Linked DNA regions of Homo sapiens: regions 1, 2, 4 and 5 are each linked to region 3. Evidence: fine-mapped expression QTL. A gene starts in region 3. Each other region holds a variant in brackets. All regions are shown on one strand. Distances are from middle to middle. Region 1 overlaps SYTL2 (synaptotagmin like 2). Region 2 overlaps SYTL2 (synaptotagmin like 2). Region 3 holds the start of SYTL2 (synaptotagmin like 2). Region 4 overlaps DLG2 (discs large MAGUK scaffold protein 2). Region 5 overlaps SYTL2 (synaptotagmin like 2).

Evidence for each region. PIP is the estimated chance that this variant, and not a neighbour inherited with it, causes the effect.
Region 1: its variant is fine-mapped to the expression of SYTL2 in whole blood (INTERVAL, PIP 0.96).
Region 2: its variant is fine-mapped to the expression of SYTL2 in tibial nerve (GTEx, PIP above 0.99).
Region 4: its variant is fine-mapped to the expression of SYTL2 in whole blood (TOPMed, PIP 0.92).
Region 5: its variant is fine-mapped to the expression of SYTL2 in blood mononuclear cells (TOPMed, PIP above 0.99).

What each region holds. Positions count from the first base shown.
Region 1 is chr11:85,778,381-85,783,487 of GRCh38, forward strand. All of the region lies in intron 1 of SYTL2 (synaptotagmin like 2), which reads right to left. Among named protein-coding and RNA genes, the nearest start is that of SYTL2, 30 kb to the right of the region's middle. The variant C/T (reference allele first, on the strand shown) is at 2,497.
Region 2 is chr11:85,717,058-85,722,164 of GRCh38, forward strand. It overlaps SYTL2 (synaptotagmin like 2), which reads right to left. Exons shown (of 20, transcript NM_206927.4): 9 at 3,801-3,902; 10 at 1,733-1,786; 11 at 426-473. Among named protein-coding and RNA genes, the nearest start is that of CCDC89, 33 kb to the left of the region's middle. The variant A/G (reference allele first, on the strand shown) is at 2,297.
Region 3 is chr11:85,809,161-85,814,267 of GRCh38, forward strand. SYTL2 (synaptotagmin like 2) reads right to left here and starts at 1,981. Exons shown (of 20, transcript NM_206927.4): 1 at 1,794-1,981. RefSeq lists a silencer at 1,940-2,119.
Region 4 is chr11:85,445,500-85,450,606 of GRCh38, forward strand. The region is part of intron 3 of DLG2 (discs large MAGUK scaffold protein 2); the gene reads right to left. Among named protein-coding and RNA genes, the nearest start is that of DLG2, 180 kb to the right of the region's middle. The variant A/G (reference allele first, on the strand shown) is at 2,559.
Region 5 is chr11:85,707,453-85,712,559 of GRCh38, forward strand. It overlaps SYTL2 (synaptotagmin like 2), which reads right to left. Exons shown (of 20, transcript NM_206927.4): 13 at 3,661-3,780; 14 at 1,879-2,048; 15 at 1-79. Among named protein-coding and RNA genes, the nearest start is that of CCDC89, 24 kb to the left of the region's middle. The variant T/A (reference allele first, on the strand shown) is at 2,660.

The sequences.
Region 1 (5,107 bases), 31 kb before region 3:
CTCGAAGCTGAAAGTGACTTTCTACCAAAGAGAATTTAAACCGTCTTTTCCATCACAACAGTACCCGGTACTAATTGCAGAGTGAATGCAGTGACCAAAGAGAAGCAGAGCTCCCAAGTTAGAAAGCAGAACCAGTTCTAGCATCTTTTCAGCCATTCTGGCATCTTGAGCAACTCAACAGAAGGCAGCAAGACCTGTAGACATGCACCACTGAAGTCTTGAAGACTTATCCTTGAGCAAGTGCCTAACAATGTCTAAGCTTAGTGAAGAGGAGTAGCATAGACACATGCATGCACTATCTATTTAAAATAAGGCTGGGCGTGCAGTGGCTCACACTTGTAATCCCAGCACTTTGGGAGGCTGAGTCAGGCGGATCACTTAAGCTCACAAGTTTGAGACCAGCCTGGGCCACGTGGCAAAACCCTATCTCTACAGAAAATACAAAAATTAGCTAGGTGTAGTGGTGCATGCCAAGTAGTCCCAGCTACTTGAGAGGCTGAGGTGGGAGAATGGCTTGAGACTGGGAGGCAGAGGTTGCGGTGAGAGGAGATTGCCCCACTGCACTCAAGCCTGGGTGATAGAGCCAGACCTTGTCTCAAGAAACAAATACATGAATAAAATAAAAACAAAATATAGAATCTATATATTCTGTAGTGTACTATACTATATATATTATATAACATATACATCTATATACATAAAAACTACTATACATTTAGTTCTCAGTCATTTGCAACCAATTTATGAAATCGTGAAAACCTCTTGACCTATTATTACATAGAAAATTAGGCTCGGTGGCTGCTAAGTGATGATAAAACCAGGATCCTCATCCCCAGGTAGTAAAATAAGGCATCCCTTTGCCATAGAAGAGTGTTCTAACAAGGGTATTTTGGTTCAGATGTGGTTGTTTATTGGGAGGGGGACAGCAGGATTACATGTGAAGTTATTGCTATTGCTATTATTTCTATGAAGAGCCACCAGTCTGGAACACTTACACGGGCTATCTCCCCAAATCCTCAGTCCAACACTGTAAGGAAAGTGTCATTATCATTCCTATTTCACAAAAGAGGAACTGGGTTCAGAGAAGCAGAATAATTTCACCTCCATATGTGCTCTTAATTACTATGTTGTGTATAGATATGTGTATATATGGATATATTATAGATATAAGTTACTATCTACAAACTGACATAATGGAATTTCAAATGTTCATTTCAAAAGCTATAAACATATGGAACAGATAAAACTCATCAAGTGTTTTTTTTTTTCCCTAGCAGAAGTAGGACTTAAAAAAGGTCACACTATCATGGAAAACTGAAAATATTTAGGTAAAACAATCTTCAGTTTCAGAAGAAGAAAAACAGTCATTTTATAAATTTTTAATCAACAAAGATCAATCAGTAAATACTTCCTAAGGACATACTGTGTGAGAAGACTTGTTAGGTACATCTCACTGAAGAGAGGGGCCATGATTTTAGAAAACTGGTGTGTACTAGAGAAAGAACACTGTCCAGGGATTAGGCAAGGTCAACTTTGCTCCCAGCTCAGTCTCTCTCTCTTGCTATGTGATGCTGGGCAAGTCACTTAACCTTCTGAAGCTTCTATCTCCTCATCTGCAAAGTGAGGGAACTAAAAAGGATGATCTCTCACATAGACTCCTTCTGACGATAAAATGCTGTGACTCACACTGGTGAAAGAAGACAATTCAGGCCACAGCAGAATTTGTCTACAATGAACTATGGCCCTATACCTCTTATTGCATTTCAAAGCCCAGAGTAAAACCATCCCAAAGTCTGTAGTCAAGCAAGCAACAGTCATTCTTTCAATAGTGCTTATGCTCATCTAAAGAGTAGGATAATTTTCCACCAAATGAAATGTCTCTCTGTGATATTGTGAAATATCTTTGTTCTCTTTTCCTGGTACATAGCTCCTAAAACCCTTGGAATCTCTGGAGTGATAAGAGTGTCTTTTGTATGCTAAGGTGATAACTGGTGGCTGGCAGCCACTAGGTAGCTTCAGAATGGGGGCTGGTCACAATAAAGACTAAAGCATGATTAAACTTTTCAGTCCAAAGCCCCAGTCTCTGGGGAGAAGAGAGGTCCCTGCCAGCACAAAGGTTAAGCTAATCACTGTGTCCATTGGTTTAATCAGTCACGCCTATGTAACGAAGCTGCCATAAAATCCCAAAGGGATTGGGTTTGAAGAGCTTCTTGTTAGCTGAACACATGGAAGCTCCATGCCCCTTCTCCCATACTTTGCCCTATGCATTTCTTCTATCTGGCTGTTCATCCATATCCTTTGCAATATCCTTTATAATAAACTGGTAAATACAAGTAAAGTTTTTCTCTGAGTTCTGTAACATTCTAGTGAATTAGTCAAACCCAAAAAAAGGAGTAGTGAGAAATCCAATTTACAGTCAGTCAATCAGAAATATAGGTGACAACCTATTACTTGCGATTGGCATCTGAATTAGGGACAGTCTTGTGGGACTGGGCC[C/T]TCAGCCTGTGAGATCTGATGCTATCTTCAGTTAGGCAATGTCAGAATTGAATTGAATTAGAGGATACCCAGCTGGTGTTTGCTGTAGAACTGATTGCTTGCTTGGTATGTGTGGGGAAAACCCCTGCACATCTGGGGTACAGAAGTGTTCTGCGCTGTGGTGAGTAGAGAATAGGAAGAACACTGCAGTAGTCCATTCCAATGCTGCTAATGAAGACATACCTAAGACTGGGTAATTTATAAAGGAAAGAGGTTTAATTGACTCAAAGTTCAGCATGGCTGGGGAGGCCTCAGGAAACTTACAATCATGACAGAAGGGGAAGCAAACACATCCTTCTTCACATGGTAGCAGCAAGGAGAAGTGCTAAGCAAAAGGGGAAAAAGCCCCTTATAAAACCATCAGATCTTGTAAGAACTGACTCACTGTCACTAGAACAGCGGCATGGGGGTAATCACCCCCATGATTCAATTACCTCCCACCAAGTCCCTCCCACAGCACACAGGGATTATGAGAACTACAATTCAAGATGAGATTAGGGTGGGGACACAGCCAAACCATATCATTCTGCCCTGGCCCCTCCAAAATCTCATGTCCTCACATTTCAAAACCAGTTATGCCCTCCCAACAGTCCCACAAATTCTTAACTCATTTCAGCATTAACTCAGAAGCCCACAGTTCAAAGACTCATCTGAGACAAACCAAGTCCCTTATACTTATGAGCCTGTAAAATCAAAAGGAAGTTAATTACTTCCTGGATACAATGAGGGTACAGGCATTGGGTAAATACACCCATTCTAAATGGGAAAAGTTGGCAGAAATGAAGGGGCAACAGGCCCCAGGCAAGTCCAAAATCCAGTAGGGCAGTCAAATCTTAAAGCTCCAAAATGATCTCCTTTGAGATCTCCATGTCTCATATCTAGGTCATGCTGATGCAAAAGGTTGGCTCCCACAGCCTTGCGCAACTCCACCCCTGTGGCTTTGTAGGATACAGCACCCCCTCCCAACTGCTTTCACAGGCTGGCATTGAGTGTCTACAGCTTTTCCAGGCACACAGTGCAAGTGTTGGTGGATCTACCATTCTGGGGTCTGGAGGATAGTAGCCCTCTTCTCACAGCTCCACTAGGCAGTGCCCCAGTGGGGACTGGGTGTGGGGTCTCCAACCCCACAGTTCCCTTCTGCACTGCCCTAGCAGAGGTTCTCCATGAGAGTCCCACCCCTGCAGAAAACTTCTGCCTAGACATCAGGCATTTCCACACATCCTCTGAAATCTAGGTGGACGTTCCCAAACGTCAATTCTTGACTTCTGTGCACTGGTAGGCTCAAAACCATGTGGAAGCTGCCAAGGCTTGGGGCTTACAACCTCTGAAGTAACAACTTGAGCTGTACCTTGGTCTCTTTAAGCCATGGCTGGAGTAGCTGGGATGGAGGGCACCAACAAGTCCTAGAGGCTGCACACAGCAGGGGGGCCCTGGACCCAGCCCAGGAAACCATTTTCCCTTCCTAGGCCTCCAGACCTGTGATGGGTGGGGGGGCTGCTGTGAAGGTCTCTGACATGCCCTGGAGACATTTTCCCCATTGTCTTGCTGATTAACATTTGGTTCCTCATTACTTATGCAAATGTATGCAGCCAGCTTGAATTTCTCTCCAGAAAATGGTTTTTTCTTTTCTGTCACACAGTCAGGCTGCAAATTCTCCAAACTTTTATGCTCTGCTTCTTTTTTAAACGTAAGTTCCAATTCCAAACCATATCTTTGTGAATACATAAAACTGAATGCTTTTAACAGCATTCAGGTCACATCTTGAACACTTTACCGCTTAGAAATTTCTTCTTACAGATATCCTAATCATCTCTCTCAAGTTCAAAGTTTCATCTCTCTCTAGTTCAAATCTCTAAGACAGGGGCAAAATGCCACCAGTCTCTTTACCAAAGCATGATGAGCTTTGCTCCAGTTCCCAACAAGTTCTTCATCTCCATCTGAGACCACCTCAATCTGGACTTCGTTGTCCACATCAATATCAGCATTTTGGTCAAAACCATTCAACAAGTCTCTAGGAAGTTCCAAACTTTCTCACATTTTCCTTTCTTCTTCAGAGCCCTCCAAACTGTTCCAACCTCTGTCTGTTACACAGTTCCAAAGCCGCTTCCACATTTTTGGATATCTTTACAGCAGCAACCCACTCCCAGTACCAAATCACTGTATTAGTCCATTCTTATGCTGCTAATAAAGACATACCCGAGACTGGGTAACTTATAAAGGAAAAAGGTTTAATGGACTTACAGTTCCATGTGGCTGGGGAGGCCTCGGGAAACTTACGATCATGACAGAAGGGGAAGCAAACATGTCCTTTTTTACATGGTGGCAGCAAGGAGAAGTGCCAAGCAAAAGGGGGAAAGCCCCTTATAAAGCCATCAGATCTCGTGAGAACTCACTCACTATCACTAGAATAGCAGCATAGAGGTAACCACCCCCATGATTCAATTACCTCCCATCAAGTCCCTCCCACAACAGGTGGGGATTATGGGAACTACAATTCAAGATGATATTTCGGTGGGGACATAGCCAAACCATATAAAACACTTTGATTTTTATATATAGAACTCTGGTTCTT
Region 2 (5,107 bases), 92 kb before region 3:
TCATAGGTCCAAATAAGTTATAAATGAATTCACATCTACAGTTTCGTACAGAGGCCACAAGAGATCCAATACTCAAAATCATACTGCAACATAAAAACCAAATGAAATCAGAAGGTGCCAACTTGCTTTTAAGCAGAGATTCAAACAGCATAGAGACTGACAAAAGCACAATAATATCAGCAATAACATATATATATATATTTAATATACAACTCTCCCTCAGTGGAACCACAAATCATTCTTTCAACACAGACAATAGTAAAATGTTTTCAATAAAACCCTTATCGTAATGAAATAGCTTTGCAAGCTGCAGGAGTTTAGTGCCAATAATAAATACTGTGTTATTAATGGGGTTAGTTATTTCAGTATATTTAATATGTAAAGTGGAATGTTTAGTCATTTGTGAGAAAGATCCTGCTACTCACTTCTTGGTACGCATTCATTTGTAACTGGCTTCTGATCTGGTTTCTCATCTACTCAGGAGGGCAACATTGAGAATAAATACCATTTTAACAGAAGGATTAAAGAGACATGAAAGTAAAGCTCAAATGTCAGTTTCACAACTGAGACAGCAGAATACATCTGACAGGTTTTCATCTTGCTTTCATCCATTCCTCACTGTGACTCTTCTTCATTAGCCTCTTTAAGGTCTCCTGTTCAACTAAAAATCTGGGATCAAACAAAAGAGATACGGAGCATCCTTCCTGTAATTCACTAGACCACAGTATGGAAAATGGGAAGGAGCACTGGACTAGGAGTAATGAAGCTGAGATTCTATTTCCTGCCCTCCCAGTGACTGACTAACTATAGGATCTTAGAAAAGTCACCTAATTTCTCTGAGTTTTTCTTATCAGCAAAATGAAGATAAAAATCCCTGCCCCATCAACTTCAGTGAGGTTGTTGTAAACATAAAATAAGAAAGACAGAACGATTACATAAAAGTAAAGAATGACCTTTAAGGAGCTCTGTTGCTGCATTTATATGGGAAAGCTCAGTGAGTACACATTTTTATGATTATAGTGAAGGCAAATTTAACAACAAGTAAATAAAATCCAGCATGCAAATACAAATTATACATTTGCATAAATTCTGCAATATAAAAATCAGACTCATTTCTGTCTCTCCCTCAACCAAGGCACCACTATACTATTCATCTTATAACAGAGCCAAGTAATACCTGATCCACTGACAAGCTTCAAGATCTTCTGGCTCCATTATATTCAGAATCAACTTCACCCTCTGTCTATATTTAGTTATTTATATAAGCAGAGGCACGATTTCCCACCCTTGTTCTGGGACTCTTTCCTTTGAATTTAAGATTTTACCAGTTGTGCCCAGAGAGATCTAAATGCTGAGACTTGAGAATCAAACAGAAGAATAACTTAACCCAGGAATTCACTCCACTCTTCCTGCCTTTACAAAGAGTTCTGCAAGTCAGAGTAGCAAAAATCAGCTCACATCCAAAGAAATACAATTTTCTATTTATAGAAACCCTTGCTTCACAAGGGTCTCTGATGAGATCCTCATGACAGTATCACCAGAAGAAGCCTTAAGAATACAAACTATATTAAATGTACCAAATCAGAACTGTTTTATAGTAACTTAGGCACTATTCACCACATAGTGGCAAATGACGTTCTTCTGTTTACCCAACAGCTGCGTCCCGGAGACTGCCCAAATCACCCCAGAAGTTAATACAAAGACAGACACGCAAATACATAAAGATATTTACCATCTTCAGCACTACGCACTAATTCTTCTGGCTGATTATCTACTTTTGCTTGATCTGTTCAGAAGAAATTAACAAATGGTTAACATGGCTGACCCTTGGAGAGAAAAGAACAATGAGATTGTCCCTGGAAGCCCCCGGAGTTGGAAGCAATTAGTCAAGATGCAATGAGGGGTGCAACCAAGATGTCTTCCCCAAAATACTTTCTCTTTAGATTAGCTCCTTGAGCCAGTGCCATAGCGGGAGCTCCCATTTCAGCCCGGATGCAGCTCACATCACTGCTGCACACAGACTCCCAAGGGTTAGAGGGTTAGTTCAGAGCAAGCAATCGGCCAGCAGCAGGAGAAAGCACGGGGCTGCAACAGCCTCTCTATTCTTCTGTAAAGGGTATGATGCTAGCCATGACTAACACCTTCCCAAACCCATGGTCATTAACAAATATTTGTGTGTGTGCATCATCATTCACATATGCCTCTGGGAGGCTTGCTTGGGAAGTCAACTGAAGAGATGTAACTGGGGACCAGCTGCTAAGTGGAATCTTGGCAGGCTAGTGTGAGAGTGGGTATC[A/G]GTATTTGGAAGGGAGCGTGCAGGAATACCCGTCAGCTGATGGTGATTTTTTTTTAACCCTATACATTCCTGAGTACTTTAAAGCTGCACCATGGAAATAGCCCCATGTTTCACAGGCAAGAGGTTTGCTAAATGGGCCAATTGTTCTGAGATTTTTTTTTTCTTTTTTTCTTTTTCTCAAGGCCCATCACCAACATCAGGAAAAACAATCAGGGCTGTCCAACAAAGGATTCGACTCGCCTTCTCTGGAAGCATTCAGGCGGATATGGGGGTTGGCCGCCTGTTGAGGAGGCTTTAGAGAGAATTCCTGCATTGAGGGGAGGTTAAAATGGGTGATTTTTAAGATCCCTTCTAACCCTGAGATTCCAAGATCCTTGGGATAGTCAGGACTACATTCCAAATTGGGAATACTGTCTTCAAACCCCTGGGAATCTGTGAATTTTAGGAAATGTTTGGTGAAGTGGCTTTTTCTTTTCTTTTTTTCATTTTTAAATTCTGACTTTTTATTCTTAATTGCAAATGCACAAAAAATATTCTAAACATAACAATGGCCAATTTTCAATCATATGAGTTTGGCAGTGGTTAACTTTTCACTTGATAATTTTTCTTATGACCATCTGCAATCCCAGGGGTGCATTTTAGCTTGAAAATAGCAAGAACAAAACCCCAAGAAATCATGGTTTCTTAGTCCATTTGTCTAGCACACAACTCTCTTTATATATTATGTTTTCTGCTAGTACTCAAGAAATCCTTCACCATTAAAGCAGCTGCCAGTGGGGAATCGTGTACCTAAAGTCTTTCATGTTAAGTAGTTTTGGGCTTATAGTTCCAGTATCTAGAAGAAAAGTGTGAACAGAATAGAAGGGATAAAAGAGAAAGGAAAGTCCTTGAAGCCAGGGACTAATTCAACTCCGTATCATGCAAAATTCACTGGACATCCAACGCTGTCATATATAATGTGGTCCCTTCATAAATGTTCTTGATAATAGCCTGTTAATTTTGAGTCCCAGATCTTCCGTGTAATACTAAAAAGGTCATTTCACATTTCTGAGCTTCATTTTCCTCATCTTTAAATTTGGATAACAATAATTCACCTCTCATAGGGTTGCTTGTGCTGGTTAAATGAGATAATACATGTAAAATTGTTAGGCACGTTTTGGCAAATAATATTCAATAAATGCTAGTTATGACTATTTTCACTAATACTACTAGCTACCACTATCCTTTGAAACTCACTGTACTTGAGAAACACTCAAACTGGGATTCTTCAATTAAAGGAAACCTAGTGTTTTAGTAACCAAATGTAATATATTATTTTATAAGCAAAGTTCCAGCCACTTTAGGTTGAGCCTCTTCAGCGCACTTTGGAGAGGTTATTTTCATCTGTTAACTGCCCCCATTAGAGGGTGCAGTGCACAACAGCACGCAGTGAGGCTACAGGAGAGCACATAGGCATTTTTAAGCTTAGATGGGGCATGAACAGTGAGGCGAACTTTATTCTCACTTGATGAATCTGATGAAATGTCTTCTAGACTTTTGGAAGGCATTTTCCTAGCGGCACTCCTTTCCAAAGTTTTCAAAACAGGACTGGGTTCTTCTTCTGAACCTGTTATAAAACAAAATCGATGAACACTGCACAATACCAAAAAAAAAAAAAATCCTCTAACATATGGACATAGAAATGGTAGGCTGAAAAGAGACATTATGCTATGAGTTTCTACTTTAAGAAGCACTTATTTCACAGAAGAAAATAAAATTTCTCCACTATTAATATGCTCTTAAACATAATTTTCCTGGTCAAGAAATATTTGCAAACGTAAACCCTACAAAAACAAGATTACCACATTAATAGAAATGTGATCTCTTAGTTGTTTACTCCTATTTTAGACATATGATTTGTCCTATGCCAGACATTGACTCTTCCCATTTAACATTCTAGCTTTTGAAGACAGCCATGAAATACTTCTAGGAGCATTAATAAAATTAATTCAAAACCGTGGAAGGCAGGATTCAGATGTTTAACATCTGTGTATAATTGGGTACACATATGAGTGCATTCTCCAGATCAAAGGTTGTAGACTTTCTGGGTTTCATGATCTAGTATAATTTCCAATGAAATGTTGGGAAATAACATGGGATAGTCAAATTTTTATTTTAGTAAGGCATTTTAAAGTTGCGGGAGGGAGGCCTCTATCATTTACTAATGCCGTTATTTTATAAAAGGAATGGCTGCATCATGAATAAGCTTAAGTACTGACATTTATTACTGCTGTATTCTCAGTGCCTAGAACAGTGGCTGGAAATAAACACTTCAAAATATTTGCTGAATCAATGAGTGATTCGATTAAGGAATCAATTAATTTAAGAACCACTTCTCTAGACAATAATTTCCTGAAATACATTCCAGTTCTGCCTAGTACATTCCATAGCAAATGGATTCTAAGATGAATTAGATTTGGATGTTCTCTGTTCAAATTTAAAATGTTCCTTACTGCGGACCTTCTCTGTGCATAATGGCCCAGCATTTCCAAAAGTATTTGACTACTGAACCTTTAATTTTTCCCAAAGGAGCATACTGAGGTATTGCTTAGTTAAGAGCTCAGCCGCAAGTCAAATGTGTTAGCTTGCTCCCCAAAATTACAGTACCCTTATAGTAGGTTTCTCTTCATTTTTCACCCCACCCCCACTGCAGTTTGCTTTAAAATAATAATTTAGGTTAGAGTATATAAACCTAAATTAAAATCATGACTATACCATTTGATACTTCTTAATTGGCTTGTTATTCTAAAATGTCTTCTCTGGGCTCTGTTT
Region 3 (5,107 bases):
TGAGCAAAACCTGAAAAAGGCCTCTTAGGGGACAGTGGAATCATTCACCAGCCAACGGTTAGGGCTAACGGGTCAGATGTGGACAATCAATCTTTCATTAGACCCCAAACCACCTCTAGGATAAAGCAAACAGGGCCCTGCCCCACCCACGCACTAGCAGCTGGGCAGGATTAGGGTAGGCCTTCTAGAACAGTACTGCTGCTGAGAGGCTAAGGCAGTCACAGATTACCTCCAGAATAACGGAAACTCCTGCACCATAAATGACATAATAGCTCTAAGATGTTTTGCATAGTGCCTGACACCTGGTGAGAACACAATGTTAGACATTTTTGCTCTCCTTATTCCAGCTTGCTCTTACTTAAGGAGCACAAAGACAGTGTAAAGAACACAGGTTTTAGAATCAGAGATTGGATTTGAATTCCAGCTATGCTACTTCCTAGCTAAGTGACTAAAGGAAGCAATCTTTCTGAGCCTGTTTCTCACCTATAAAATAGGGTATAGTACATCACCCCTCATGTGGCTTTGTGAGAATTAAGGATATATTACATACAAAGAAGTGTCTGGCCCATAGTAAGTGCCCACTAAACAGCAGTCAACATTGCCCTGCTGCCGTCCCCACACCTCTTCTCCTTCCTAGCTGCTCTTGATGGGTTCTGCAATCTGATTTCACCTGGATACCACACTAAGGGTGAGAAGGGGCAGAACTTCAGGGGTGGAGGAAAGTGAGGGAAGGGAAATGCTGGAGACCTTCCATAGAAATCCAGCCAAGTCCTCAGCTCCTTTCAATCATCCTACTCTATCTGGCTGCTCCATCCAGCAGACAGCAGGGGTCACCATCCTGGTGGGGAATGGCTGCCAACAAGGGGACGGGAAGCTGGATGGCAGTTTGCATCCACCCCACCTTCCAGGGTCTATCTGTCTGAAGCCCCACCGGGCTTCCTCTGCACATCCCTGCCGGGCTGTGTGGCTCAGGGGGCTGACAGGGTGATTCATAGCCTGTTCTTATCTAGGCTTCTATCTCAACCCTGCGCCCAAAGCCCTGGAGGCTGCTGGTCACAAACCAGCACTAAATGAAAAGAAGAACTTTTCATTAAGGCAGGAAGTGGAGCCCCTCAAGGTCAAAGGGGATTTATAAAGAGAGGAGGAAAGAAAGGGAAGACGCGGCAGGATGGGTGCAGAGAAAGAGAGACCCACTTCCTATATGCTGGTGGAGCCCTGTGTCTTAGACGCTAAAAACAGTCGCTTTTCCACTTCAAAGGATGATAAAGCCCACTCGTGTAGTTTATAGCTCGCCGTGGGACGAGGTGTGGGTATGGAAGAGAATTCCAAAACACGTCTTATTTTCAAAGGAGAAATCATCATCCCCTGGCCGGCCCTTCCCAACACCCCACCTGTAAACAGGTGCTGACGCTCCTACCTTTCTGCACCTGAGCAATCTGGGGGCAGTTACTCTGCAGCCAGGTCTCCCCAGCACCCAGCCCCAAGCCCAGGTCAGTCCCTGAAAGCCCTAGAAAACGCGATAGCTCAGCAGAACCCTCGCCTACCCGGGCATCCCAGCTTCCTGGCCGCCTGGGCAGCGGAGGTGGCTCTGGAGTAGGTGGGAAACTGAGGAAAGGAGCTTTCCCCGTGCCAAAACGCAGTTCCCATTTTAGAACTGGTTAGACTAAGGAACAACATTCTACACCACCTCCCTCACTTAACAGAGGAGGAAGCAGAGACCAAGAGAGGGAAACAAAGTTGCCCGAGGTAACACAGCGAGTGGGCCAAGTAGAGACTGGAACCCGAGTGCGCACCTCCGAGTCGCTGCCGGGCAGGGAGCGCGCCTCGCCGTCTCTCTTGTCTTCTGGCCCCCAGCCCTCGGCCTGGCGGTGCAAACCGCGCAGCCCCGGGCGCGGCGCGTTACCTTCCCCCGGGCAAGGCGTTGCGAGCCTTCACTCTCCCGACGGACGCTGGCGGCACGGCCCGGGTGTCGCCCGGCACTGTCAACGCAGAGCGGCGTGCGCGAGTCCCTCCCCGCTACCCCCGCCCCCGGCGGGCGGTGCGGTGGGGCCGGTCCCGGGTGCTCGGGCCAATGGCGCTTCGCCCGCTCCCCGCCCCGGCCCGCCCCGGCCTCCTCGCCCGGCACACAGCGCCTGCCAGCCCCTGCCCTCTCCCCTTCCCTCCCTTCGCCCTCCGCCCCCGCCTGCTGCTTCTCTCCGGTTCCTAGCCTCCTTCTCAAGTGTACCTTGCCCCGAAACAACCTGTTTTCTGTGCAAATAAAGCAGCACTGTTGTTATTGTTATTATTATTTTTATCACGGCGCGTTAGGGGGCCTTGGAGCCCGAGAGTGTGGAGCACTAGGAGCCTCTGCACTCCGAGAAGGGACAGCCACCGCGCAGGGAAAGGGGCGCGGAGGGTATGGAGCCCGGTCATGGGGTAACTTGCTTTAACCCTCGGGACGTCAATTTCCTCACATGTGAAATAGAAGAAGGGGGGAAAAAAGTTGTTGAGAGGACTAAATGAAGTGATGCTTTAAAATACAATAATACCTAGAGAAAGGTGAGGGCGTCATGCACTGCCTGAGCTACTTACTGGGGTATGCACAGAGGACTGGTAAGCTCCTGGAAGACGCTGTGTGGCAGGGAGGCAGACAATGCAATACAGTAAATACAATATTGTGGTCGGGCGCGGTGGCTCACACCTGTAATCCCAGCATTATGGGAGGCCGAGGCAGGTGGATAACCCGAGGTCAGGAGTTCGGGACCAGCCCGGCCAACATAGCAAAACTCTGTTCTAATTAGAAAAGAAAAAAGAAAAATTAGCTGGGTGTGGTGGCGAGCGCCCGTAGTCCCAACTACTTAGGAAGCTGAGGCAGGAGAATCGCTTTAACCCGAGAGGTGGAGGCTGCCGTGAGCCAAGATCGCACCACTGCACCCCATCCTGGGTGACAGAGCAAGACTCTGTCTCAAAAAAATAAATAAAATAATTTAAAAATTGTATCACGACCTATTTTTTACAAGTTACCCATGATGGGGCCAGCCCAGGCAAACCTCTGAAGGAGATGAACCTTAAAGCCTTTTTCCTTATCATTTCCTGGACTAGTGTTGTCCATTTAACTGAGGGTGGCCCAGGTCTGCCTTTGGTTCTTCCAAAGGTCTTCCTTCTCCCAAACTTACAAATACTTATCCCCAAGGGCTTCAGTTAGTGCCCAGTGCAGGCTGCTAGCCTGGCCCAAGAGTCCTGGCACTGTGCAGAGATGTGTATTCTGGCTTCCTTCAGCCTTTGAGAGCCTGGTGTGTCCCTGTGCTGGGTGAGCATGCCACATGCAAAAGAGGAATAAGCCACTGGTCTTGCCTTTGAAGAAACAAATTTGTAAATAATTTCATTTTAGGGTAAGTGTTATAATAGGTTGACAAAGTGTTGTAGAGTCACTACGCTGAAGGAGGGGGACAATAAAAAATACAAATGTGACCAAGGTAGGTCTTGAAGGAGGGCTACAAATTAGGTCAGATTGAAGGGGTGACAGAAGACTGGGCACAGAGAGGCAGGCAGAGACATGGAGATGCCTGTCATATGTCACGGCTATTGCACAGGATTTGGGACAATGAGGCAGAGATGAAGCTAAGGAGGTAGGTGGGCAGATGTTGGAGGAGTGGCTGTACCTGCCTTGCTGAGGGAAGCAGGCTGTGTCCTGTTGGTGATGGCTGTTGGCGAATGATTTTAGGCAGGGGAGTAGCGTGACCTCAGATGCTTTTGGTACTTCACTTTTATTGTTGATTGCACCTGCCTTGGTTATCCCCTTCCTGCCCCTCTCTAGCTCTGGAGGGCAGGCACTGGGTCTTGCTCACCTCTGGGTGCCTTGTATCATCTGGCATAGGACTTTGAAGGAACTAAATACATGCTGTTCCCAGTATCACTCGTCCCCTGGAAACAAATAGCAATGCCTAAATGCTAGAGAGGGTCACAGGATCCTTGCTTCAGGTTGTGGGGCAGGCAAGTGGGGGAGAAATTTTAAGGCAGGGTCTTGTTATGGCTCCCAATTCATCTAAATCTTGTATGGCTCAGAGACTAAATCTTAGAGCTCTTGGCCAAGATCCAAATGCTGTTAGAAATGTCAATTTCTAATAAGACCTTAGACCAATTACTCAACCTCCCTGTGCTTCAGTTTGCTCATTTGTTAGAGAGAAAATAATTGCACTGCTCTCTCAGGCCTACTGTGAAGATTAAAAGAAGATGCACATGTTTAGCATGATGCCTTGCACATACAGTGCACTGAAAAAGCCTTGGTTAACACGATCATATCAAGTCAGCAATGGCCTGTTCCACTTATCCCATAGGAACCCTTCAAAATGGTTTACATATAAGTGACACTTAAACTTTAGAGAATTCTAGGTTGACATTGAAGGGGAAGGCAAGAGGGTAGGGATAGCATGGTGTAAGGTTAAATGCACAGACTTTGGTGTATCTCCTGGCTCTACCACAGAACTCGCTGGTTGACTTTGGACAAGTCACTTAATTTCCTTCTTTCTCTGGGTGACTTTAGACAAGTCTCCTCCCTCCCTCCCTCCCTCCCTCCTTTCCTTCCTTCCTTCCTTCCTTCCTTCCTTTTTTGGCAGGGTCTCACTTTGTTGCCCAGGCAGTGGCACAAACACAGCGCACTGCAGCCTCAACCTCCCAGGCTCAAGCCATCCTCCCACCTCAGCCTTCCAGGTAGCTGGGACTACAAGCACACACCACCACGCCCAGTTAATTATTGTATTCTTAGTAGAGACGTGGTTTCGCAATGTTGACCTCTTGAGCTGAAGCGATCTGCCCGCCTCAGCATCTCTAAGTGTTGGGATTACGGGCGTGAGCCACTGCACCCAGCCTAAGTCACTTAACTTCTGTTAGCGATTGTTCTTCTATAAAATAGAAGTAGTCATATTACCTGCCCCATGCCAAGGAGATAACACATAACACATATAGCATATTGCCTGGCCCAAGGTAAGATCTCAATTCCTGTTAGCTAATGGTGTGATAATGGTTGGAAGAGAGTTATTATAGTTTTTGGAAAGAATAATCTCCATGCCTCTGCCTGCCTCTCTGCACCCCAGTTTTCTGTCACCCCTTCCAGATGACCTAACTTGTA
Region 4 (5,107 bases), 360 kb before region 3:
AAACCCCGTCTCTACTGAAAAATGCAAAAAATTAGCTGTGCATCATGGCCTGCGCCTGTAATCCCAGCTACTCAGGAGGCTGAGGCAGGAGAATCGCCTGAACCTGGGAGGTGGAGGTTGCAGTGAGCCGAGGTTGCACCACTCCTGTCCAGCCTGGGCAACGAGAGTGAAACTCCGTCTCAAAAAAACAAAAAGATTGAAAGCACTAATCAGAACAGGCACACCTCATTTAAAAAGAGACACATTCCTAAAAGTGGTATAGAGTTTTAATTTTTATTTTTTCTTTTAAACACACAATTTCCTTTTTTAGAACCTAACACAGTGGGCACTCTATAAAAATTTTGGGATTGATGAAACCATTGATGGAGGAAACCATGGAGGCTTTCCATCCATTACTCACACATTGCTCTATATATTATGTACACTGCCTCTAATCTACAGATGAGAAATTTTAGGCACAGAGATATTAAACAACTTGCCCAAAGCCACAAATATGTCTGCTGACTCTAAAACCCATTGTTTACAACTTGTGGCTTTGTTTGTTAAAAGATCCCTTCCTCTTTAAGTAAAAGAGCAAATTTTACCTTACAAACCATCAGACCCTAAATTAATCTACCTGAAAAATAAAATGTTGGTATGGTGTTTTGAGTTGTTTCAAAGTGAGACACATTAAGGACAAAGTATTTGAGAACATTTAAAGGTCTTTTAACTTCATTAGGGATTTTAAGTCTGATAGATTTAACATGCCTCTACAAAATGTACAATCTAATCATGTTGAAAGATCAAATCTAGAATAAGCCCTATCAATTAGCACAAGAATAACAGTGCCATTTGTTGCCATTGGAGGAAATGGTTTTGTTATAGATTTCTAAGAGAAATTAGTTAGATTTTACTTTGAAGGCCATAAAATGTTGTTTATATTCTTTTTCAAATAACAATTCTTGTAATAAGATAACAAAGACATACTGCTTTGTAATTCTTATGAAAATAAATTTGTTAATAATCACTTAAAATAATAGCTTCCATTTGTTTAGTAAATATCGATCAGGTAAATGTTCTAGGCACTTTATAAACATCTTATTTAATCCTTGCTACAACTATTTAAGATAAAATACTATTTTTCACATTTTATAGGTTCATTAAGGCTTAAATAACTAAAATTATGTAGCGTGAATCATACAACCACAGATGCATCTTATTCTAAAGCCCATGCTATCTCCATTGTGTCCTAACTGGAGCTACCTTAAAAGAAATATTACTCAGTGACAACTCCAGTTTGAAGGGATATAGTATATGTGTGTGTGTGTGTGTGTGTGTGTGTGTGTGTTTATATATTGATATATAATATTTTAAAATTTAGAATGTAAATTTGTTTTAAAATGAAAAACTTCTAAGAAAAAGCTTTGTATATCAAAGACAATAAATACATTCTGCCATTTGAATAAAATCTTTTAGTCTAATGAATCACGGCAATTTTACGTTATTTAAAAAGAGAAAGGCAACACAGTGTGCATTGGTCATAAGTTGAAAATATTCCATTGTAAAGTCAAAAAATCATAAATAGAACCATTATAAATTAAAGACCAACTGTACAGAAGTTCTAATCTGCCATTTAATTGACTAGTTGTATAACTAATCTTACAATTTTCACTTTAAGTCTTCAAACTTCACCCATACTGATAATCTAGCTTTCACTTCTTTATTTAACAAATACTAAATTCTAGAAACATTGACAGACTCCAAGAATACTATGATGAAAAACACATTTGTTATGGACTGAATTGTGTCTCCCCTGCCCCCTGCCCAAACTAATATGTTGAAATTCTAACTCCCAGTACTTCAGAATGTGACTATATTTAGAGATGGGGTCTTTAAAGAGGAAATCAAGTTAAATGAGGTAATTAGGGTGGAACCTAATCCAATATGACTGGTGACTTTATAAGAAAAGGAGAAGATTAGGACACAGATACAGAAGGAAGACCATATGACAATACAAGGGGAAGATAGCCATCTGCAAGCCAAGGAGAGAGGTCCCAAAGAAACCAACCTTGCCAACCATTGCCAACCACCTTGATCTTGGAATATTAGCTTCAAGAATTGTGAGAAAATAAATTTTTGCTCTTTAAACAATTGAATTTGTGATATTTATTATGGCAGCTCTAGAAAACTAATACATATTTCATGATTTATTTGTGTTCCCTCAGTCATTACCCTAAACATTAAAGTAAAAATTTGAAGCTTAAAATTTCTGAAAAAAAAATTATGAAAAGGTCAAATCCCAAGAAAGCAAAGAAACCATAAGTATTTTTATTTTGGAACTTTAACTGAAATTAGACTTGTACATCAATAAATTTGAGAGGGATGAGATAGACAGAAAAGGCAATTGTTTCCCAAACTGATCTTAACCAATCTCTTTGAAAATGTTTTCCCAAAAGTCTAATAATTCTAGGAATTCTCTGAACTTGGAGGCAGCTTAGAGCAATGGACAGATCGTTGACCTTACAGACAGTTAAATCTCAGTAGCTAGCTGACTCTGGGCAAGTTATTTAGCATTTCTT[A/G]GCCTCGATTGCTAATATGAAAATTAAGAAACTCATAGTTTGACTCAAATGAAATAATCCAAATTAAAGCGATTTTTATACTTGAAAGTACCTTACAATGTTTTCATGAGGAATAATTTTCCTGCTTTAGCAATCTAAAAAGCCCTATCAGAAAAGGATATCAATGAATTTCTAATCTAAACTAGACTATTGCTAAGAAACAACATTAAGTTTACCATTTCCTGGAAACTATTCATTTTTAAAACACTACATTCAGTATTCTGGAATTGCCTCAATTCTCCTTGAGCATTCAAATAATGAGCAGAGACCTTGAGATAAGATTTGGGGTGAGAAAGTAAAAATAAATTCAGACACCAAAAATCTGCCCTGACATTCATCAGGCTGGAATAATAGGCCCAGATAAAGCTGGCTGGAAAGTTAAAAGGAAACACTATTTCACCCAAGGATATGCTGCCATTATAAAGTATCATCACAACCCCTTTCTTTGAATGCCTACTGCTTTCTTACTGAAAAACTTTGTTCTATAAAATCAAAGACAATCAGAGACTTTGCTTCTGAAATTCTCTCAGTAAAAATGAAATATCCCACTCTTGTCTGGAGATTCTAAGTCACTTTGACACAGAGAAGTAGCCTCTATTTAGGATCCAGGAAATACCTTCAGATAAGGGTTTGGGGACCCAATATTCAACATCTATCTTATCTTTATTGCTTCCAAGGAAACAAGTCCATTGCCACATCCACATCTAAAGCATTTACACATAGCCTTGCTCCTTCCTTTCCTTTGAGCCTATCAAACACTAATATATTTAAAGTAGTTCCCATTCTTCATTTCTGACTGTGCTTATTTATGCTTCTCTCTCCCTCTCCCTCCTCCTCTTCCTTCCACTCTCTTTTAAGTCAAACATGGCAGAAGTTGTTTACGTTAATCTTATCAAATGAAACTCAGTCATTATTGATCCTCTTTATTCTGTGTTTTGTTTGTTCAATCAGTATCTTCTCTATTATTTCCTTTTTTCCATTTTATTGAATTTATTCTGTCCTTTTTCTAACATGTTAAATTGGATACTTGGCTTATTAATTTTTTTCCTTTCCTTTTTCTATTTATTTTCCTTGGTTAGAATTTTTATGCTTCCTGAAACAGAGAATTATGTCTTCCATCAATTCTGGAAATTTTTCATCCAGGACTTAAAAATTGCTTCTGCCACATTAATTCTAGTCTCTTCTGGAACTCCAATGGGTGATATCAGCTCTTGTCATTCTAATGTCCATGTCTTTTAACCACTCTTTTATGTTTTTCACCTCTTTGTGATAATTTCTTTAACTCTATCCTTTATTTCATTAATTTATAATTTTCTTTTGTATAATCTTCTTTTTAACCATCTACTTTTTAGTTATTATAATTTTCATTTTTAGGAGGTCTATTTTGTAATTTTTATTTCCTATTCTGCCCCTTCTTTTTAATTATATCTTATTCCTTTCTTATATTAGAGAGTACATGCTTTATTTAAACATTTTAAACATTATATGAAGTGTTTAGTGATATTTTCTGGTAAGTCTCACTTATAGTGATTTATTTCTCATGTATTTTGTAGTTTTCATTCTCAATTTATGTTTTATTAAAGCTGTTTTTAGGTAACTCCATGAAGCCTGGGTTGAAGCTACATTCAGTGAAAGATGATATGCATTTGCTTCTGCCAATCACCTGAGTGCTTTCGAATTGGAACTACCTAAAGTTTTTTTTTTTTTTTAGCTCTAGACTGCTCAGACTACAAAAATGACGTAAATTTTGACTAGGCACAGTGGGTCACGCCTGTAATCCCAGCACTTTGCAAGGCCAAGGTGGGTGGATCACCTGAGGTCGGGAGTTCGAGACCAGCCTGACCAACATGGAGAAATCCTGTCTCTATTAAAAATACAAAATTAGCCGGGCATGATGGTGCATGCCTGTAATCCCAGCTACTTGGGAGGCTGAGAAAGGAGAATCGCTTGAACCCAGGAGGCAGAGGTTGCATGGTGAGCCAAGATCGCACCACTGCACTCCAGCCTGGGCAACAAGAGTGAAACTCCGTTTTAAAAAAAAATGACATAAATTTTAACTTGAAAGCGATATCAGGGCAGCCTTTGTGGTTATCAATTTTCAGAGCAGATATTTCTATTGTTTTCTATGAGAGCCCAGGCTAACACATACCTTCTTGCCAAGTTGTCTTGCTTATCTTCGTTATTTGACAGGGAGACATTTTTTTTCACCTCTACCCTCATATTAATCATAGAGTTAATTTCTGGCTTTATGTGGGTTCTCAGAGATATCTTCACATCTGTGTATATACTAGGCTTTTTCTCCTCCACTGCCTGGTCATTAAAACAGGATTACCATAATTAGCAAATGCCCTCTAGATAGCTATGATATCAGCAACCACCTACAATTCTATTTCCAACTCATCTTCTTTTTTGGCCCCCACAGACTTCCTTTACTTATTTGTGAGCTCACTTAGGAATTTTAAAATATTGTTGCTACTCCATCAAGTAATTGTAAATATCTTATATTAGAG
Region 5 (5,107 bases), 100 kb before region 3:
ATTCAAGGTTTTCTTCACTACGAGTGTTTTCTTCTTGCCCATTTTGCCTTTGTCTGGTAGCAAATAGGCCTTTACATATCTGAAAAGGAGAATTGAACAGACAAAGTCAAAGAAAATAAAAGTTATGTTTCCACCTCTAGTTTTTTAAATACATTGAAAACTGACAGCAGAAATAATTATTTCATGACACTGAGAAAAGCAGTGAATAACAAATTTTCCTACCAATACCTTTATACTTAAATGTGTAAAGGGTTTTAGTGGAATTGATCATTTTATATTGTTTTGAAGATTTTTAACGGGCATTTCCTGCATTCCTTTTTTCCTTTGGCCTTAACTAATATGCAGGGGTGGAAAGGGGCAGAAAACACACTTCCAGGCCAGGCACGGTGGCTCACACCTGTAATCCCAGCACTCTGGGAGGCCAAGGTGAGCAGATCACCTGAGGTCGGGAGTTCAAGACCAGCCTGACCAACATGGAAAAACCCCATGAGCCAGGCTGGTCTCAAAAAAAAAAAAAAAAAAACCACACACACACACACACACACACACAGAGCTACAAAGTTAGCTGGGTGTGGTGATGCATGCCTGTAATTCCAGCTAGTCAGGAGGCTGAGGCAGGAGAATCGCTTGAACCCGGGAGGCGAAGGTTGCTGTGAGCTGAGATCGTGCCAGCCTGGGCAACAACAGTGAAACTCCACCTCAAAAAAAAAAAAGAAAAAAAGAAAACACACTTTCAGCATAGAGCTTAAATCTGTTTGTTCCCCTAGTTTGTTCCCCTCTGAGAAAACGCTTTGGTGCTTGCAGTATTTTTAAGTTTTTGTTACCGTCTTTTGAAATAAATTAATCTTAGTAAATACCTAGTCAAGTTATCTTCAATGTTAAAAAAATAAAGGATGTTGAGCTCAGTTGTTTTTATAATAAGAATAAAAGAAAAAAGGATTGCACTTGTCTCAGCAAAATAATTAAGAATCAGACTTCTGTATAGGGATAAGTAGGGAATACCATTCAGCGTTTGCAAAAAAAGAAAAAAAACTGAAGTGCAATTAAACCTGTGATTTAAAACAATAATTTTAGTAATTTCCCCTAAAGTTCTGTAAGATATAATTTAAATATGAAAATTCTCTCATTCTAGAGTCTTAACTATTTTTATACCACTGAGCTTTATGAAGTGTGTCCCATGTATCCCTAATTTTGTAAAAAGTTTGAGAGTGTGGTGGAAAGAGATGGGTTCAGGTCCTCATTCCTCATTTTGCTTCTATCTGAATTCACATATATGGGTTACTTGTCTTCTCTGGTCCTTGCGTTCTTATCTGTAAAATGAAGGAACTGAACAAGATGACCCCAAAGGTTCTTTCCAAGTTGAAACATTTTGTGCTTCTCTGTGATTTTTTTTTTTTTTTTTTTTTTTTTTGAGATGGAGTCTCACTCTGTCGCCCAGGCTGGAGTGCAGTGGCCCGATCTCAGCTCACTGCAAGCTCCGCCTCCTCGCCATTCTCCTGCCTCAGCCTCCCGAGTAGCTGGGACTACAGGCGCCCGCCACCACGCCCAGCTAATTTTTTGTATTTTTAGTAGAGATGGGGTTTCACCATGTTAGCCAGGATGGTCTCGATCTCCTGACCTTGTGATCCGCCCGCCTCGGCCTCCCAAAGTGCTGGGATTACAGGCGTGAGCCACCGTGCCCGGCCTTTCTCTGTGATTTTTATAATTTAATGTTTGACATATGAATTTATAGAATAAAACAGCATTTCCCCCCAACTTTTCAAACATTCCTCTTAACACATACCCTCCCTCCTCTTGATTACTTTATTTCCTTCCAATTCCTGTAAGATTGACAGTTGGAGAACTAAGAGAAGGTAGGTGACTCTAAAATGTACTTACGGGTCTGAACGCTGTTTTTTTACATCCGCTGCTGCTAAGTCCTTACACTGGGCCACAAAAACATGCAACTCCTTCAGTGACTCCACATATTCAATTGCAAACTGAATATTTCCTTTAACTTCCAGATTGCCAAAGTCTCCACTATAAACACTCATCACACTGCCACTCACCTGAAAGCATCAGAAATACATAGTGTTTGTCTCTATCTCATTCTTAAACCTAGCACAAGGATCATGGATATAATCCCTGCTGGCATTATTTCTTTAGCTTGCTTATAAAAGCAGTTAATTCAATATAGCATAAAGACATATCTATAAAGACAACCTGACATGATATACATGACTAGAGTTTTTTGTTTCATTTTGTTTTTGAGACAGAGTCTCACTCTGTTGCCCAGGATGGAGTGCAGTGGCTTGATCTCGGCTCACTGCAACCTCCACCTCCCAGGTTCAGGCGATTCTCCTGACTCAGCTTCCCAAGCAGCTGGGATTACAGGCGCACGCCACCATGCCCAGCTAATTTTTATATTTTTAGTAGAGATGGGGTTTCACCAGGTTAGCCAGGCTGGTCTCAAACTCCTGACCTCAAGTAATCTGCCCACCTCGGCCTCCCAAAGTGCTGGAATTACAGGCATGAGCCACCGCGCCCAGCCGACTAATGTTTTTAAATAATTTTCCCTATAAGACATAGATGAAAAGTGAAATGCAATGTTATTTAGATGCTGGCTCATTTCAAAGCAGGGTGATTTTATGCTAGGTGGCATTCAAAGGCATCCATTTTC[T/A]GGCATGCTTAATATTTAAAATCCAAAAGAAAGAAGATGTGAGAAAACCCAGACACTCTAATCATAGTGACACACTGCTGTATCGAATTTCCAAGGCACTAAAAAGGAATTTTACCATGTTACCCATCCACTGAATCTAGAAAAATGCTTACTGAGCCATGCGCTTTTAGAGGTCAGGAAGGGTAGAAAATGGATGATTGATGAAGGGAGTTTAAAACCTTCCCAAAGGCAGATGTTAGATTTTTATCAGCAGAAACTCAATTTAAATAGGTTTTTAAAAAAGGTTTCAGAAACACAAGGCTAGCAAGAATTTAAGCACAGTTTTATCATTTCTTCAGCATACTTGGGTGAATATATGTATGTGTATGCACATCTGATACTCAGATAAGTGTATGTGGATATATTTACATATATTTTTACATACATACTACATGCACATACAACTTCACCTTATGCAAGAAGTTCTATGTAAAGTCAAATTAGTTAGATTCCCTTAAATCAAATCTGAGTAACTACACTTAAGGATATTTCCTTTTAAAATGCTGCTCAGATGCCTTCTAAAAGGCAAGGAATTACCTCTCATATTCTTTCATGTCAACCAGTATATTGATTGCTCAGGATTACTAAAAGAGAGGTTCAATTCTATGCCTGCAAATCATATATAAAAGCATATCTGATACAAGCAGATTTTATCATAGTTACCCCATTTGTTGCACAGAAAAATTTAGTGGTTCATCTTCTTGGCAATTTAAGTTTATTTGTGAAGTACTTACATCAACAACAACAAAAAACCCCACAAAGATTTGTTTATGATGGATATGAACCCCGTTAGTCTAAAAAAAAAAAGATAGATGTAGCTAGCCAGAAGCTAATTATGGATTAGAGAAACTGTTTGTGCCCTGAGAAATACAGGAGGAGGCTGTTTTACAATGAGCATGAGCATGTCAGAGCAAGGTTCAGAGACGCGGAGAGATATTAATATGGAGCCTTTGTTTACATACAGAAGACAAGGACGTCATGCCAGAGGAGCTGCTAAGATTGGTTAAAGAGCTCGGGCTCTTCTTGTGTCTGCTGAGCTGGTAACTGCTTTCTGATGCTGTATCTGTTTCTCTGTCATCACTCTACAAAACAGCATATAATATGCACAATATTTAAATTCAGAATGAGTCAAGATCAGAATCTCTGTTTAGGCAAAGATGAGATTTTGGTATTCCACTGACATTTACGCAAGGTCAAAGGATGCTAGTGCTAATTGCCAGGGTATGGGATTCAGGATGGAGTGGGTGGTCTGCCTTGACCTCACCTAAGGAGGAAGGCAGTGCTTAGCTACCAAAATAACGAAGTGATTTCTTTTCACCTACAAAGTAGTCTTTCCCAAAGTGCTGCAGAAGACAGCACTATTGTGAGCTTTCTTGCCAGTCTTTTAATATTATATATTTATTTGCCTGGGGAACTCTATTGGTATATATGAGAAATTAACTTTACCCAGATAATAAAAAGATTTACTGTTAAAACCAAAACATCATGTTTAATTCCTCTTATTAGCACAGCCCCTAACTTCTCTAAAAATCAAATCTTTTACTTGACACACTATTAAACTAGGAAAAAAGAAATGCTAGTCTCATCTGTTTCAACTCAAGGCCATATATATATATTTTTTAATGTTTAAAATTTTTAAACTTCCCCTTACATATTCCTGTGTTATTATGCTTATCTTTTTGTTCCTAGAGTTAAGTATATTAAATTATACATTCTACCCACATTAGATTTTAACACATTTTTTAAAAAGAAGTAAAATACAGGTATTTATTTTAAATATGTCCGAGGAAGTATTTACCTGGGACAAGAAAGAAAAGTGACAGTAACAAATTTTGTTATATTTGAATCTAAAGTTTATTAAATAGTAGCTTTAAAAATTTATGATTCAGAGTGAGCTCCTTTTAGGGTTAGAGAGCTTATGGAACAGTTCAGTGGCACCAGGGGTTAAGGGACACCTTTATGGAGTAGTTAGTTCATGCCAGCATATTCCAGGACCATGCAATTATGCATCAATATAATGGATGCCAATTGTAATGCAGATTAATAAAGGAGTTAAAGGAAAGCAAAATTAATGCTTTACGTGGATAAGAATCCTTTCTCAAGGATTAAAAAAATTCATATCTTTTAAATGTCTCTGTTGTCACACTCTCTCCCCACATGCTGATAGTCATTTCCCTCTATTTTAGCGCCTACTGCATTCTACCTAGTATATCAGATCATTAGTGAATTATTGGAAGGATAGGACTCTGCCTTGTTGATCTGGAATGGTGTTTTACATGTAACTGGCACTCAACAAATGTGACTGATGATAAGTCTCAAAGGGAACAGATGAGCAAGGCCTGATTGCATTTCCACTTTCTTTAATACCTAGTTCAACCCTATACCCCATGCAAAATGATAGAGCTTAAT